Homo sapiens: one gene and its partners. The protein of the gene in region 1 purifies or fractionates together with the protein of each later gene. This does not show direct contact. Each region holds a gene or a part of one and is shown on either strand. Other genes may lie near its edges.

Region 1 (5,586 bases):
ATGAATGAATAAAGAAAATGTGGTATAGATACACAATGGAATACTGGAGGACATTACACTAAGTGAAATAAGCCAGGGACAGAAAGACAAATACTGCATTATCTCATATGTGGAATTCCTAGAATTCCATACAGTTCCATTCCTAAAAGTGGAGAGTAGAACGATGGTTACCAGAAGCTGGGGGTGGGGGACTTGGGGAGAGAGGGAATAGGGAGCTGTTGATCACAGAGTACAAAGTTTCTGATAGACAGAAGGAATAGGTTTTGAGATCTATTGCACAGGAAGGTGACTATGGTCAATAATAATGTATATTTCAAAATAACTGAGACTGAATTTCAAATAGCTCATCATAAAAAATTATAGGCAAGGCAATGTTAATTAGCCTGATTTAATCATTACATGTTGTATATATGTATCAAAACATCACGCTATACCGCATAAATGTATACAATTATAATTTGCCAATCAAAAATAATACTGATAATAAATTTTTAAAGCTAATGATGTAGAAGATAGAGCTGAAGAAATTATCCATAAAATAGGAGAGTGAGACAAAGAGAGAAATTATGAGAGATTAAGAAGCTTGGATGATCCACTTAAACTGCAGTGAAAATGCAGAAGCAGAAAATTTAAAAAGCTACAAGAGAAAATAGAGATGAACTACAAATATATAACAAACTGACAGGAAGCTTCAACAGCTATAATCGAAGTCAGAAGACAATAAAATACTAGTTTTGATGCATTTAGGAAAAATATCTGTCAGTGAAGAATTCTTTAAGTAATTCAATTCTTTAAGAAAAGTCAAGAGAGCAGAGCCGTAAGAACCAGAGGAAAACAAATTAAGCCTGAAATCAGTCCTATTCAGACTTCCAGTTATATGAACCAATAGACTTCCTTATTAAAAACTGATTTGGTTTGTTTACCTATTGGTAAAAACTTTGTAAGGACTTAAAGACCATGACATTTTAATTAAATAATCATATGTGTTTCACCCCATCAAACCCTATATGTTTTTATGAGTATGGGAAAAGGTGTGGAAGAGTTCACATCTAGGAGAATGACAACAGGCATTCAATAGAGTTACAAAGAGGTTTTTTTTTGTTTTTTTTTTGAGATGGAGTCTCACTCTGTCACCCAGGCTGGAGTGCAGCAGCACGATCTCGGCTCACTGCAATCTCTGCTTTCCGGGTTCAAGTGATTCTCCTGCCTCAGCCTCCCGAGTAGCTGGGACTACAGGCGCGCACCACTGCGCCCAGCTAATTTTTGTTTTTTGTTTTTTCTTTTTTTTTAAGAGATGGTGTTTCACCATGTTGGTCAGGCTGGTCTCCAACTCCTGACCTCGTGATCCACCCACTTTGGCCTCCCAAAATGCTGGGATTACAGGTGTGAGCCACCGCACCCAGCTTTTTTTGCTTTTACATCTTTGTATTGTTTGACTTACTCTAAGGAGGTTGTATATTACTTTTATAATTGGAAGTAAAAAAATTCATAAAGGAGACAGGTGTGGTGGCATGTGCCTGTAGTCCCAGCTACCCAGGAGGCTGGTTGAAGTGGGAGTATCACTTGTGCCCAAATTCAAATTCAGCCTAGGCAACATAGTGAGACCCCATATCTCTCTTTTTTTTAACTTTTATTTTAGGCTTGGGGATACATGTGAAGGTTACATAGGTAAACGTGTTAAAAACCACAATTATTTTTGCACCAACTTAGTATTTCATCACCCAGATATAAAGCCCAGTACCCAATAGTTAACTTTTCTGTGCCTCTCTGTCCTTCCACCCTCCCTCCTCAAGTAAATCCCAGTGTCTGTTGTTTCCGTCTTTGTGTTCATAAGTTCTTACCATTTAGCTCTCACTTCTAAGTGAGAACACGTGGTATTTAGTTTTCTGTTTCTGTGTTAGTTTGCTAAGGATAATAGCCTCCAGCTCAACCCATATTCCCACAAAAGACATGATCTCATTCTTTTTTATGGCTGCATAGTATTTCATGGTGTATATGTACCACATTTTCTTTATCCAAACTGTCATTGCTGGGCATTTAGTTGATTCCATGTCTTTGCTATTGTGAATAGTGTTGCACTGAACATTCGCATGCATGTGTCTTTATGGTAGAATGATTTATATTCCTCTGGGTGTGTACCCAGTAATGGGATTGCTGGAGACCCTATCTCTTAAAAAAAAAAAAAAAGTATATATACACACACACAGACTCACATAAAACCCAAATATATATATTAAATTATTAAATATATTATTCTCCCCAAAACCCAGCCATTTATATATATATATTTATATAATACTTAAAAGCCATTTATATATATATATATATATATATATAAATGGACCTCAAAGGTATCTTTCACTCTTCTTCCTTAGTATCTTGGCACATGTTGTGCCTTCTAATCCATTGTCTTGTTCCACTTACTCCCTTATGCCTATATATATATATATATACACACACACACACACACACACACATATATGGCTTTTGAGTTTTTGTTTTTTTATATACATATTTATATATACATATACATTTATATGTATATGAATATATTATATATTTTGTATATGTATAAAATGTGTGTATATATAATAGATATGTGTGTGTATGTATATAAAACAAAAAATAATAAATACTCAAAAGACATTTTTTCCCAAAGATCAATAAAGTAGTCCTATCTACTTTATACATGTAATATTAGGCATGTATACCTGTAGATAAAATGGAAATAGGAGATATTCCAAATGGCATCAGGTATATTATACAAGTAAATTTTAAAAATTAGATGAAATGGCCAGTTTACCAGAAAATATTGAAATTTGGCTCTATACAAAAATGAAAGACTAATAAAAATTTTTAAAAATTGATATAGCTATATTCTCCCAAAAACTCACCCAGATAGTTTTACATGTTTGGTAAACGTCTGGTTCACTCATTCAATAGATACTTTTTAGTGCCTATTATGCCCTTAAAAAAGTATTGTTGTTCTAGGCTCAGGGTTTATTTTCTAGCTAACATTTTTTGAGTGCTTATTTGGTGCTAGATACCATTCCTTTTACATGTATTAGCATATTTATTCTTCACAATAATATATAGTGGGGAGCAGGTGATTACTGTTAAAGTATAGAAACTGGTACAGAGAGGCTCAATACCTTGTGGCCAAAACGATCTTTTAAAAAACACAGATCGAGTTAACCTGCTTATAACTATTCAGTGGCGTATTACTGGTCTCTGCAAAAGACCCATATCCTTAACAAGGACCTAAAAGCCCACAATGATTTGGTTGCTGTTGCTACTGACTTCTCTAAAGTAGACTTGTACCACTTTTCTCTCTCTGTATCCTATCTTTCAGGACCTCAAAGGTATCTTTCTCTCTTCTTCCTTAGTATCTTGGCACGTTGTTGTTCTTTTTTACCCATTGTCTCGTACCACTCATTCCATTATGCCTAGTGAAAGTCTGATAATTCTGTAGATCTTAACTCTACTTCTGGATGTCTTTCAATTTCCAGATAAAATGAAGTCCTCCTACTGAGCCCACTCATAGTCTTATGAACTTACCTTCATTACCCCTAGTAAATATTTTGACATGTATTTGTGTAATAATTTGATTAATTAATACTTGATTGTATGAGGGCACAGACTATACACACACACACACACACAAACATATATATATATATTTTTTTGAGGCAGGGTCTCGCTCTTGTCACCGAGGCTGGAGTACAGTGGTGTGATCACAGCTCACCATAGCCTCAACCTCCTGGGCTCAAGTGATCCTCCCACCTCAGCCTCCCAAGTAGCTGGAACCACAAGTGTGTGCTACCATGCCTGGCTAACTTTATTTTTGGTAGAGATGGGGTCTTGCTATGTTGTCCAGGCTGGTGTGAAACGCCTGTGCTTGAGTGATCCTCCCACCTTGGCCTCCCAAACTGTTGGGATTACAGGTGTGAGCCACTGCACCTAGCTGATATTTTCACTCACCATTGTATCCCTAGCAACTTGGATAGTGCTGACACATATCAAGCACGCAAGAATGACTTAAATTTCTAAATGGATTATCTATTTTAGTCATAAGATACATGAATTGGCATTAAAGTTTTCAAGAACCTCTATCAATATAATGTGAGGCTAGTCAATTATCCAAAAAGTATTCTCCTAAAACCTAAAAAGTAAGAAATTAGTAAAATTTTCAATAAGTAACCAAGGACAAAACTAGATTGTTCTATAAAATTTTAAAAACTAACTTTAAGACAAAAATTAGTAGGATGTAGTTACTGGGAAATTAAACAAGTTGGGAAATACAAACAGGGTGGAAGATGATAGTTACCCTACACATCTCACCAACACTGTCTAGGATTACAGACAAATGATTTTACCTCTTTCCTTAATCAAAACAAATTGTTTAGGGAGAATGTTTTAAAGGAATAGTCCCAGCCGGGCGCGGTGGCTCACACCTATAATCCCAGCACTTTGGAGGCTGAGGCTGGCAGATCACTTGAGATCAGGAGTTTGGGACCAGTCTGGCCAACATAGTGAAACCCCGTCTCTACTAAAAATACAAAAATTAGCTGGGTGTGGTGGCACATGCCTGTAATCCAGCTACTCGGGAAGCTGAGGCGGGAGAATCACTTGAACTCGGGAGATGAAGGTTGCTGTGGGCCAAGGTCGCGCCACTGCACTCCAGCCTGGGTAACAGAGTGACAGAGGGAGACTCTGTCTCAAAAAAAAAAAAAAAAAAAAAAAAAAAGGAACAGTCCCTTTAAGAGTGACTAAAGATGTAAAGAATAAAGCTAAACCAAGCCAGCTACATAACTATAGAGGTATAAATGTAAAATTAACATTCATTGATTATTTACTATGTGTCAGGGATGATCTATGAGCATTTTTTAATAGACTACTTTACACTGAATATGAGCATTTATTAACTCATGCTTTTTCAAATCAACTCTATGATGTAGTTACAATTATTATCTCTATTTTACAAGTGAGAAGATCACATAAGTTTTAAGTAGGCAGAGTCAAGATTTGAACCCAGGCTAAGGTTAAGAGCTGGTGCTCTTAACTATAAGAGGACAGTAGTTAAAATAGATATCTTCCCTAATATGTGTGTAAATACTGAAGATTTTTTTATTAATACAAATTGTTTTCTTATCTAGACTATTTCACTAGCCCTCTAGTTAGTTTCCTTGACTCTAATTTTGCTCTCCTTAAATCCATTTTCCACACTGCATCCAGTGATCTGCTTAAATCTTAAATGGACTTGTACAAAATTAAGGAAAACCTACTCAGCACGGCAAACAAGGCTATGATTCATGCTTAATGACCCCAGCCTTCTGGCCTCTCCGATGTCCTTTTCTGCTACTCCCACCCTAGACTTTATATGTCTTAAAGTCTAATACAAACTCAGTACTTGTAGTGTCCACTACACACTAACCATCCCCACTTACACTATGTATTTTAAGAACTATGGATCTTTTTGTTCGCTTTTCTGAAATGCCCCTTGTTCCTGGCATTTTCGTCTCAATTAAGCATCTTTCTGGATTAAATTTTATTTTCTCCAGGAATCCTCTTCTGAAACCCTTAGAA
Region 2 (3,576 bases), about 74 Mb from region 1:
TTTCATTACTAAAATTCTGTATGTCTTCCTGTTATATATTTAGCCTTGTGATTCCTTATTGCCATTGTGATGTTGCTTCCTGTAATATATTGGTTTTGTTATTGTTGCTGTTGTTGTTGTTATTTTGAACAAAACAAAATGCTTACCAGCTGCTATTTTAGCAACAGGTGCCATCTAGCAATAAGACTTGAAGGAGGGTTCACTCTGTCTTTGTTCCTGAATATGGGTGGTGTTTTATCCTTTCCTGGCAGCAGAGGCTGTGAGAAACGCTGGAGCTGTGTCGACACTCTGGGAACACACTCCTGGAGCAAGCGATGTGTTTTCCTGGAGGCTTCTTTGGGTATCTCTATGACAAAGATTGCTTGATGAATTAGCATTTCTTTTTCTTTTCTTTTTTTTTTTTGAGAGACAGAGTCTCACTCTGTCACCCAGGCCAGAGTGCATTGGCACCATCTCGGCTCACTGCAACCTCTGCCTCCTGGGTTCAAGCAATTCTTGTGCCTCAGCCTCCCAAGTAGCTGGGATTATAGGCACGCGCCACCACACCTGGCTAATTTTTGTATTTTTAGTAGAGTTGGGGTTTCACCATGTTGGCTACGTGGGTCTCAAACTCCCAACCCCAGGTGATATGCCCTCCTTGGCCTTCCAAAGTGCTGGGATTACAGATGTGAGCCACCATGCCCGGCCCTTTATTAGCATTTCTTTTGATTTCACTTGTTTGTCTATTCTACAAGCACATATTAAATTCCTGTGATTTCTAAGTATTATACTAAGTGCTGAGAATGAGGCACTAAAAGACATAGTCCTTGCCCTCAAAGCGTTGTCAGTCTAGTCAGTGATTCAAATAAGTTTTCAGCTATGCACAGTTGTTCATGCCTGTAATCCCAGCACTTTGGGAAGCTGAGGCAGGTGGATCTCTTTGAGCCCAGGAGTTTGAGACCAACCTGGACAACACAGTGAAACCTCATCTCTACAAAAAATACAAAAAAATTAGCCGGGCACGATGGCTTGCACCTGTAGTCCCAGCTACCCAAGGGCCTGAGTGGGAGGATTGCTTGAGTCAGGGAAGTAGAGGCTGCAGTGAGCTGAGATTGTGCCACTGTACTCCAGCCTGGGTGACAGAGTGAGACCTTGTCTCAAAACAAAAACCAAAAACCAAGTTTTCCAGTCACTTTGTCATGGTAGTTAAAGGTCCTTTGATGAGAGCCACACCCCTGCTGTGAGAGCATAGAGGAAGCACACTCAACCCAAACCAGGACTGGTGCAGCAGCTCTGAAACAAATTCCCAGAAAACGTGATAGCTGAGTTAAGATATTTGTTCATGAATAGTCAGTGAGTGACTTACTCCTATGTCCCAGAAGTTATGCTGGGGTTGAAAAGATGAATAAGTCATAGTCCTTGCTTTTAAGGTACTCAGTCTGGTGGTGGAGACACCAGTTATGGAGTAGCATTGTGCAAAAGCAGTGATAAAGATCTGTACTCTGGAGTGCCTTGAAGGGGCCCCCAACCCAGCCTGCAGTGGGAAGGGAGGTATAGGGAATGATCATTAGTTGGTCTGGTTTCATGTTCAGGTAGACACCTGGTGACTGAAGGATAGGCTTGGGTGTAAAGAGTTAAAATGTTATTAGCCCTGGAGAAAGAAGAATCGCTTTTAGAGACTGCTGACACCTCAACTTCCGTTATCTCTTTTCCTGTCCTGTATATCTTCCAATTTCTCTTCCTCCTCTGTTCTACTTTTCTCTGTGGAACGTACCTCGTCCATCTTCTTTCGTCACTTTAGCACAGCTCTCCCAGCTCGGCATTGTCCCCCAGCCTGGATGCTTCTCTCTGGACTAGGAGAGGGAAGTTATTTGAATATCCTCATCACTGTTTACACTTTAGACATAGGAGTATTCTGGGTGGCTAGTTTATATAGAATTGAGTATCAGTATGAGTAGTCTTGCACTACTCGCACTACGGTGCAAGTACCTAGTGCTTAGTTCAGTGTTAGTATTAGTACCAGGACACCGTAAGTAGAAAGAGCCCTGACCTGGGAGCTGAGGATTAGGTTCTAGTCCCACCTCCTCCATAAATCACTGTATAACCATGGGTTTGGATCTTGGTCTTAAATATTGAGCAAGGTGATTTTTAAAGTTAACTTCAGCTCTAAGATTCTAGGGTTCTGAAATTTTCCCCATTAAAATTTGATGAGTTGTAAATGAAAGCTAAAGAGTGACAGGTACATGATTCCTTTTATGATTTACCCAGGAAGAGCCATCAAGGGAGACCCAGTTATTTATTTTTTTTCAGACTTTCTCAAACCATTAATGATTGGAATGAAAAACAGGTAGAAAGGAAGAGCTCTTCCTCAAATTTTCAGAAGAACAAATGGAGCTGTTGCTGGACAGGACAGGTTCTACTCTGAACAATTAAATGTGGTCATATTGGGAACTGGTAAAGTGAGGCAAGTACTTTGGACGAGATGGGATGAATCTTACTCCAGCCAATCTGGTCCTAGAATGTCCCTTCTAGTCCCAAATTTTTGTTCTGGGACTTACCTGTTCACCCCTTCCAACTATTTTTACTCTTATGCCTTCTTTCTCCCGATGTTTTTCTCACTTATTTACATGCTATGATGCTTTTCTATGTGTTAAATGGCTTTCATAGACATTATCCCATTTGATCTTGCCAAGTAAGTAAGGCTGGTATTGCCTACCTACACTTAAGAAGACCAAGGCTCAGAGGAAATAAATGACTTGTCCAAGCCCATGATATCTTACTGGTTAAAAGAATAAGAAATAATGTCACTGCCTTAATATGACTTGGTTATTTGAAGTGCCTGAATTCAGGGAAACATTCTTTTCTGGTTAAGGTAGATCAAACTGTAACTCCTGATTTAGGTGAACATACATGGTGTCTATTATGGGGCATTGGATATTGAGGCACAGAGTTCATAGAACTCAGGGAAATAGTGCAAGAAAAGTGAGAAAGAATGGCAGTTAGTTTTTCGTAATGAAATCCTAAGATCTAGTGGGAAAGGAGCGAATGAAGAGGACTCCAGCAAAGCACGTGAGAACAGAGGATGTGCCCCAGTGACAGAGCAGAAACTGATGGCACATCAGAGCCCATCTGGGACTAGGGGCTGCTGCTGTGCTCTCAGGAGCCACACAGGATGTAGCTACAGCATATGCATGCTTAAAGTCTCAGTCTTCAAGATAGTTTTTGGCTTTCTGAAAATGAAAGAAAGTGTTTTGGATGACTAGAGTTCTTTACAGGCCAAGGAACAAGGAAGAACTCAGAAGAACATGCCGCTTCCTCTATTCTCCTTCAGCATGTGGAACCCTACAGAAAGTGGTGCTGAATAAGGAGTAGGGCCCTTGCATTCAGCTGAGACCCTGTATCATCACTCCTTCCATGCCCTTGCCTCACCAGGAGGCAGCGTGTAGGGGGGATGGTGAGGCTCAAACTGACCTGGATTTGATGCCAGCTTAGGATTTTGTCTTTTTTTGTTGTTGTTGTTGCTTTAATAATGGAAAGCTAACCTACCTTATAGGGTTGTTGTGATAATTAAAATTAAATTATATAAAACTTCTAGCA
Region 3 (3,576 bases), on another chromosome or scaffold:
CAGCTCTATTTTCCTTACTATGAAAGAAAAGGTAGCTTTTTCCTTCTTCTCCAGAAGGGAATGAGCTAGTGGCCTGTAATTAACAGCACACTCTGGACCAAGTCAACAAGTATCAACTGGCTAACTCTGAGGGAGATTTTCCAATTTAAATACTAAAACTCATCATCTCACATCTAGGCTATTTAACAACCATAACATTTATTTCCCGTTACATTACCTCTGAAATAGAGAGTAATTTGGATTAATTTTAACATAAATGCATCTGTATTTGATTTCATAGTATTATGGGGGAAGGTGGGAAAGCTGAAAGTACATAGACATACCAGTTCTTTTATTCGTTTTCTGTGTCTACTATGTGGGTTGTTCAAATGACTGGTAAGATCAAATATTGTTGGTATTGCATTATCTCGAAGAACTGTCCTATAAGGACTCTGAAAAAGAAAATTGTGTTAATTCAGAGATGGTCCTTATAAATATATTACACATCAATAAAATTCTATGTTAATGACCTCCACAATATTCCTTCAACTCCAGCTCTAAAGTATAGAGACTTACAGAATTTGATGTCAGTTCAGGTCAGTCTACTATTTCCAACTGTGCCTGCATTTGCCCTTCTGGCAATCTATTATAAATTAAGAAACTGAATTGAAGGTAGGCATAAAATATAAAATGTACTTGCATTTTGCATATCTGTTTCTAATTCAGCATCCCAGCTACTTTATCTGTACTGTCCTTCCATGAGCCCACCAAATCTACAGGAGGTACAAGTCTCCCAAAATAATCTGCACTCTTGTATGTTCCATAATAATGCATCCCTATTTTACCTAATGTTCCACTTTTGCTAATATTACTGAGAAGCATCAAGGCACAGTGAAAATATTGGACTGGGACCCAGGAGACCTAGGAACTAGTCCAAACTCTACCAGTGAGTGACTCACTAAGACACCCTGGCTAAATTACTTTCCCTTTTTGGGCCCCAGTTTCTTTTTCTGAATAAAATTCTGGTATTGAACTAGATCAACATTTCCTAAAATGAAATTATTCACATACTAATGATCACAATGCTTGCCATTTCAGTTATATTACCATCTGTATTTTTACACAATCTACTCATTTTTTAGTTAACACTGTCTTAAGTAATAAAACTGTAGGAAGAATGATCTGATGTTATCTTATGTTTTTAAAAAAGTTTTTAAACATGTTTTTAACACATACTACAAAACTTCTAAAATAAAAATTGATTCATCTGCCACATGAAACCAACTCTCACGCCACAAGTGATACTGATATACATAATCACATTTTTGCAAATGCTAATCTAGGTATTTCTGTATCTCTTTCAAGTCCTAATCATCTTATGAAAGAATGATCATACTCTACCCTACTTCCTGTTAATTTCATCCAACTTGGCTAGAAGCTGGATGCATACTTAGATGGTAACGGTCCTACTGCCAGCCCTGAGGAGGCTGAGTAAAAGACAAGAAGCTTATTAAGAGGGACAGTAATAAATAACTGCTATTACACTCCCCTCAGACAGTCCAAAGAATAGTGCCTTTAATTTCTTCCTGAATTTGGAATGATAAAGATAAGACATACTTCATTTAAATAAGCTTTCTTTGAAGCAGTGATTATTTCAAAATATCTAAGCATGCTCAAAGAACATGCCAAACAAAAATAACAACTTCTAAATTTGTTCACCCAAGGAAGGGAGGTTGGGAAGACATGAAGGGAAAACATGTATCTAAATGGAACACACTATCTTGGGTTGTACCCAAAGAGTTGTTAAACACATTTGGGATGAATTTCTATTCAGAGTCAATATTTTCTAGTTCAATTCCATGCCATAATAGAAAACACAAAGATGATTCTCTGACTTCCTAGTAACACTCAACTTCTAGTGCTGGGCTCGTGATCCTGAGTCTACTAGGGAGGCTGAATGAGGAATTGGTTAGGGACACAATCACTGAAGGGAGTACAAGTTATTATATTCAAAGCTCCCCCATCTTTCACACCGAGCAAATGTCCCCAAAATAAGCAAAAACACATACACAGTCAATTCTTGATATCTTACTAATTATTAAATAAGGAGGGGAGGAATAAAACATTTTAACAAATTTTTAAAAGTCAAATCAAATTGATTTTCTATTTGCAAATAAAGCAAAGATATTATAGATCAGAAAACAGAATGTATGAATGAAAAAAATGACATTTTACAAATATTTATTTTGGCCAGGAATGTTGGCTCACACCTGTAATTCCAACACTTTGGGAGGCCTTGGCCGGGTAGACGGCTTGACCCCAGGAGTTCAAGACCAGCTTAGGTAACACGGCAAAACTCCATCTCTACAAAAAATACAAAAATTAGCGAGGTATGGTGGCATGTGCCTGTAGTTCCAGCTACTTGGGAGGCTCAGCGGGGAGGATTGCTTGAGCCTGGGAGGTCGGGGCTGCAGTGAGCCATGGCTGCGCCACTGCACCCCAGCTTAGGCAACAGAGTGAGACCCTATTTCAAAAAAAAATAATAATAATAAAAAATATAAATATCTATAAGGACACATGCCAAAAAAGACAATATTCAAATACTACGTATGATACCAAGTATCTCAGTATCAAGATTTAATCTTTAACTGCTGAATTAAGGTTTGAGCATAAAAGAATAATCTTACTCTAGCATCAAAATAATAAAATATTTGGCTCCGGCCAAATTCAGTAGTCATGAATGTTTACTGATGAAATCTTTTTTTTTTTGTCTGTTTAAAGACAGGGTCTCACCACCATGTTGCCCAGGCTGGCTCTGAATTCCTAGGCTCAAGCAATCCTTCAGCCTTGGACTCCTGAGTAGCTGGGACTACAGACACGTGCCACTGTGCCTTGCTACTGATGAGATCTTCAATGCCAAACTAATAAAGCCAAAACTCTTAAACATTTAGATACAGATATCAGAAAATCCAGGGGTTTTTGTTTGTTTGTTTTTGAGACACAGTCTCACTCTGTCACCAAGGCTGAAGTGCAGTGGCACAATCTTGGCTCACTGCAACCTCGGCCTCCTTGGTTCAAGCGATTCTCCTGTTTCAGCCTCCTGAGCAGCTGGGATTACACGTGTGCACCGCCATGCCCAGCAAAATTTTTTTTGTTTTGTTTTGTTTGGTATTTTTAGTAGAGAAGGGGTTTCCCCGTTGGCCAGGCTGGTCTCAAACTCCTGACCGCAAATGATCTGCCCGCCTCAGCCTCCCAAAGTGCTGGGATTACAGGTGTGAGCTACCATATCCAGCCCAGAAATCCAGTTTTTAATAACAACATCTCCTAGACGTATAGAAAGAACATTTTCTCACATTTGCGTTCATTTATTCAAGATTGAAGAATCATTTAGAAATTAAAAAAGCAAACCTGGCTCATCTTTCTGTTCTATTCTCTAACTAAAGAATGTAAGAATGAACTATCCTTTAAATTTCTCACAATCTGGTTAGAATTATCTAATTAAGAGACCATATTTATTACTAAAATAAAAATGCAAAAATGCATATGGCAAATGTATTTAAAATAATTTGGGATATTTTTACTTCATGTCAAGAACAT
Region 4 (2,825 bases), on another chromosome or scaffold:
ATGGAGTCTCACCCTGTCACCCAGGCTGGAATGCAGTGGCACAATCTCGGTTCACTGCAGCCTCTACCTCTCAGGTTCAAGCAATTCTCCTGCCTCACCCTCCTGAGTAGTGGGGATTACAGGTGTGCCACCACCATGCCCGTCTCTAATTTTTATATTTTTAGTAGAGACGGGGTTTCACCATGTTGGCCAGGCTGGTCTTGAACTCCTGACCTCAAGTGATCCACCCACCTTGGCCCCCCACAAAGTGCTGGGATTACAGGCGTGAGCCACTGTGCCTGGTCTATCTTTAAATTCCTATCTGAATTTGTTTAGGTTTTTTAAATAAAAATCTTTCTTTTTTTTTAGAGACAGGGGTTCACCATGGTGCCCAGGCTGATCTCGAACTCCTCCTGGACTCAAGCTATCCTCCCACCTCAGCCTCCCAAAGTACTGGGATTACAGACATGAGCCACATGCTTGACCTGAATTTTAACTGCAGTTAATTATCACTTAACCAGCGAATTCACACAGGAGAAATCCCCTGGCCGGGCGCGGTGGCTCACACCTGTAATCCCAGCTCTTCGGGAGGCCGAGGTGGGTAGATCACAAGGTCAAGAGATCAAGACCATTCTGGCCAACATGGTGAAACTCCGTCTGTACCAAAAATACAAAAATTACCTGGGCATGGTGGTACGTGCCTGTAATCCCAGCTACTTGGCAGGCTGAGGCAGGAGCATTGCTTGAACCCATGAGGTGGAGGTTGCAGTGAGCCGAGATCACGCCACTGCACTCAAGCCTGGGTGACAGAGCAAGACTCCATCTCTACTACAAAAAAAAAAAAAAAAAAAATTCAACCACCTTAGGAAGCCTCTCATTTATGTATTTCTAGCATGTAATTAGTGTTGCACATGGGAAGGGCTAATAGATGCTGACAGAGTGAACAACTTATCTATTTTGTGTGTGTGTGTGTAACAGGGTCTCATTCTGTTGCCCAGGCTGGAATACAGTGGCATGATCACAGCTCACTGCAAACTTCAACTGCCAGGCTCAGGCAACCCTCCCACCTCAGCCTCTTGAATAGCTGGGACTGCAGGCTCATACCACCACAACCAGCTAACTTGTATTTTTAGTAGAGACAAGGTTTCGCCATGTTGCTCAGGCTAGTCTCGAACTCCTGGACTCAAGTGATCCACCTGTCTTGGCTGCCTACATTGCTGGGATTACAGGCATGAGCCACCATGCCCAGCCAAATTTTTTTTTTTTTTTAAGGGAAGGGATCTTGCTATGTTGCCCAGGCTGGTCTCAAACTCCTCAGCTCAAGCAATCTGCCCACCTCAGCCTCTGAAAGTGCTGGGATTACAGGCATGAGCCACCATGTCCAGCACACTTTAATATTCACTATGGGCCCTCAAAAGGAAATGTTTGTGGGGCCACCAAAAGCAAATGTCTCTTGAACCTAGTCACCTGGGGGGACAAGTGTGGGAAAGTGCACCTGTGTTCCCATGAGACCCACTCAAGAGGAGCAGAAATCCTGTTTTGCTATTTCCTTAATTGCTACTAGGGCTGGGATTTTTTCATGTTTATTGGCCCCTCTACATTTTTTTCTTTAAAAAAATTCACAAAGCATGTTTATATTTGTTAGCTCTTTTGATTCTCCCTATGATAGTGTGAAGACAGGGACAAAACGCTACCATTTCACACTCCCAGATCTAACAATAGCTACCAAGTAATTATGCCATGCGTTTCTTCTAACCTTCGCAATATCACTACGAGGTAGTTCTTACTATCCTCATTTTACAGATAAGGAAACTGAGGCTAAGTGACGCTGGCAGACTTGCCCAAGGCCACACAGCTGGTAACAGGGACTGGTAGTCACTTGAGTCCTACATGAGCACCCTTGCTACTACAGCAGCTCCTCCCCTTTCTAGAGGCCTAGATGGAAAGATGCTGGTGTCAGCGGGGGGCACAAAGGTCCACCCAGTCCCACACATGCAGAGAGGCATCATTTGTTGCTGATAACAAAGTCCTTGGTCTGCAGGGATGCCAGGTGTGGGTGGTGACCAAAGGAGCAGGGTCCATCCCATTTCCATCTAGGAAGATGTGACCTCTGTGAGTGAAGAGAGGTTCTACTTGGCTCCGTGTTCCATCTTGGCTCCGTGTTCCATCCCAAGATGTGGCATCATAGACCTGGACTGTACCATCAAAACCTGAGAATACAGAAAAGAGAGGCTTGACAATGAGTCCCTAATTTTATTTTAAAATAATTTTCTTTCTATTTTTAATAGAGATGGGGTTTCACCATGTTGACCAGGATGGTCTTGAACTCCTAGCCTCAAGCGATCCTCCCATCTCAGCCTCCCAAAATGCTGGGATTACAGGCACCCAGCCCCTAAAATACTTTTTATAATTTGTTCTATGGTACCAAAACAGGCTATTGGATGAGGAATCAAGGCACTTAAAAGGCTAACCACGGGCAAGTAGCATCTGCCCTCAGTGTTGGCAGCTGATGACTCCGTGGGGCATGTAACCATGAGCATCCGTTGTGCACCTGTTATGCGTGAGGCTCGAAGGCTAATTCTGGACAAGTATTAGCTCTTTTAATCCTCAGAACTGTATGACACAGATACTGTTATTTTACCCAGGAAACTGAGGCTTAAGAGACTTCTTCAAACCTTTTCAAGTTGCCCCAGAGTCCAGTCCCCTACCTCTGGGTCCCTTTCAGCAGATGGCCTTGTCTCCTACTCGATGGGGGAAACAGAAGCCTTTGGAGAGAAATACCTTCACGTCCCTGCACGATCTAGCTGCACACACACTCATTCCATCCTGCCATCTTCCTGGTACTG

Evidence for each region. Proteins that work in one complex are often made in the same cells at the same time.
Region 2: the proteins of TMED5 (region 1) and ILDR2 purify together in Homo sapiens (co-immunoprecipitation; one large-scale study listed by IntAct). This does not show direct contact.
Region 3: the proteins of TMED5 (region 1) and THAP12 purify together in Homo sapiens (affinity purification with mass spectrometry; one large-scale study listed by BioGRID and IntAct). This does not show direct contact.
Region 4: the proteins of TMED5 (region 1) and WDR73 purify together in Homo sapiens (co-immunoprecipitation; one large-scale study listed by IntAct). This does not show direct contact.

Annotation. Positions count from the first base shown.
Region 1 is NC_000001.11:93,172,865-93,178,450, forward strand, and holds part of TMED5 (transmembrane emp24 domain-containing protein 5 isoform 1 precursor), read right to left. Parts: intron 1-5,586. UniProt on the Homo sapiens protein: Potential role in vesicular protein trafficking, mainly in the early secretory pathway. Required for the maintenance of the Golgi apparatus; involved in protein exchange between Golgi stacks during assembly.
Region 2 is NC_000001.11:166,969,041-166,972,616, reverse strand, and holds part of ILDR2 (immunoglobulin-like domain-containing receptor 2 isoform 1 precursor), read left to right. Parts: exon of another isoform or gene 1-346; intron 347-1,753; exon of another isoform or gene 1,754-1,832; intron 1,833-3,576. UniProt on the Homo sapiens protein: May be involved in ER stress pathways with effects on lipid homeostasis and insulin secretion. With ILDR1 and LSR, involved in the maintain of the epithelial barrier function through the recruitment of MARVELD2/tricellulin to tricellular tight junctions.
Region 3 is NC_000011.10:76,360,633-76,364,208, forward strand, and holds part of THAP12 (52 kDa repressor of the inhibitor of the protein kinase), read right to left. Parts: intron 432-3,576; coding exon 324-431; intron 1-323. UniProt on the Homo sapiens protein: Upstream regulator of interferon-induced serine/threonine protein kinase R (PKR). May block the PKR-inhibitory function of DNAJC3, resulting in restoration of kinase activity and suppression of cell growth.
Region 4 is NC_000015.10:84,641,535-84,644,359, forward strand, and holds part of WDR73 (integrator complex assembly factor WDR73), read right to left. Parts: intron 2,190-2,825; coding exon 1,936-2,189; 3' UTR 1-1,935. UniProt on the Homo sapiens protein: Component of a multiprotein complex required for the assembly of the RNA endonuclease module of the integrator complex. Associates with INTS9 and INTS11 in the cytoplasm, stabilizing the INTS9-INTS11 heterodimer and blocking the active site of INTS11.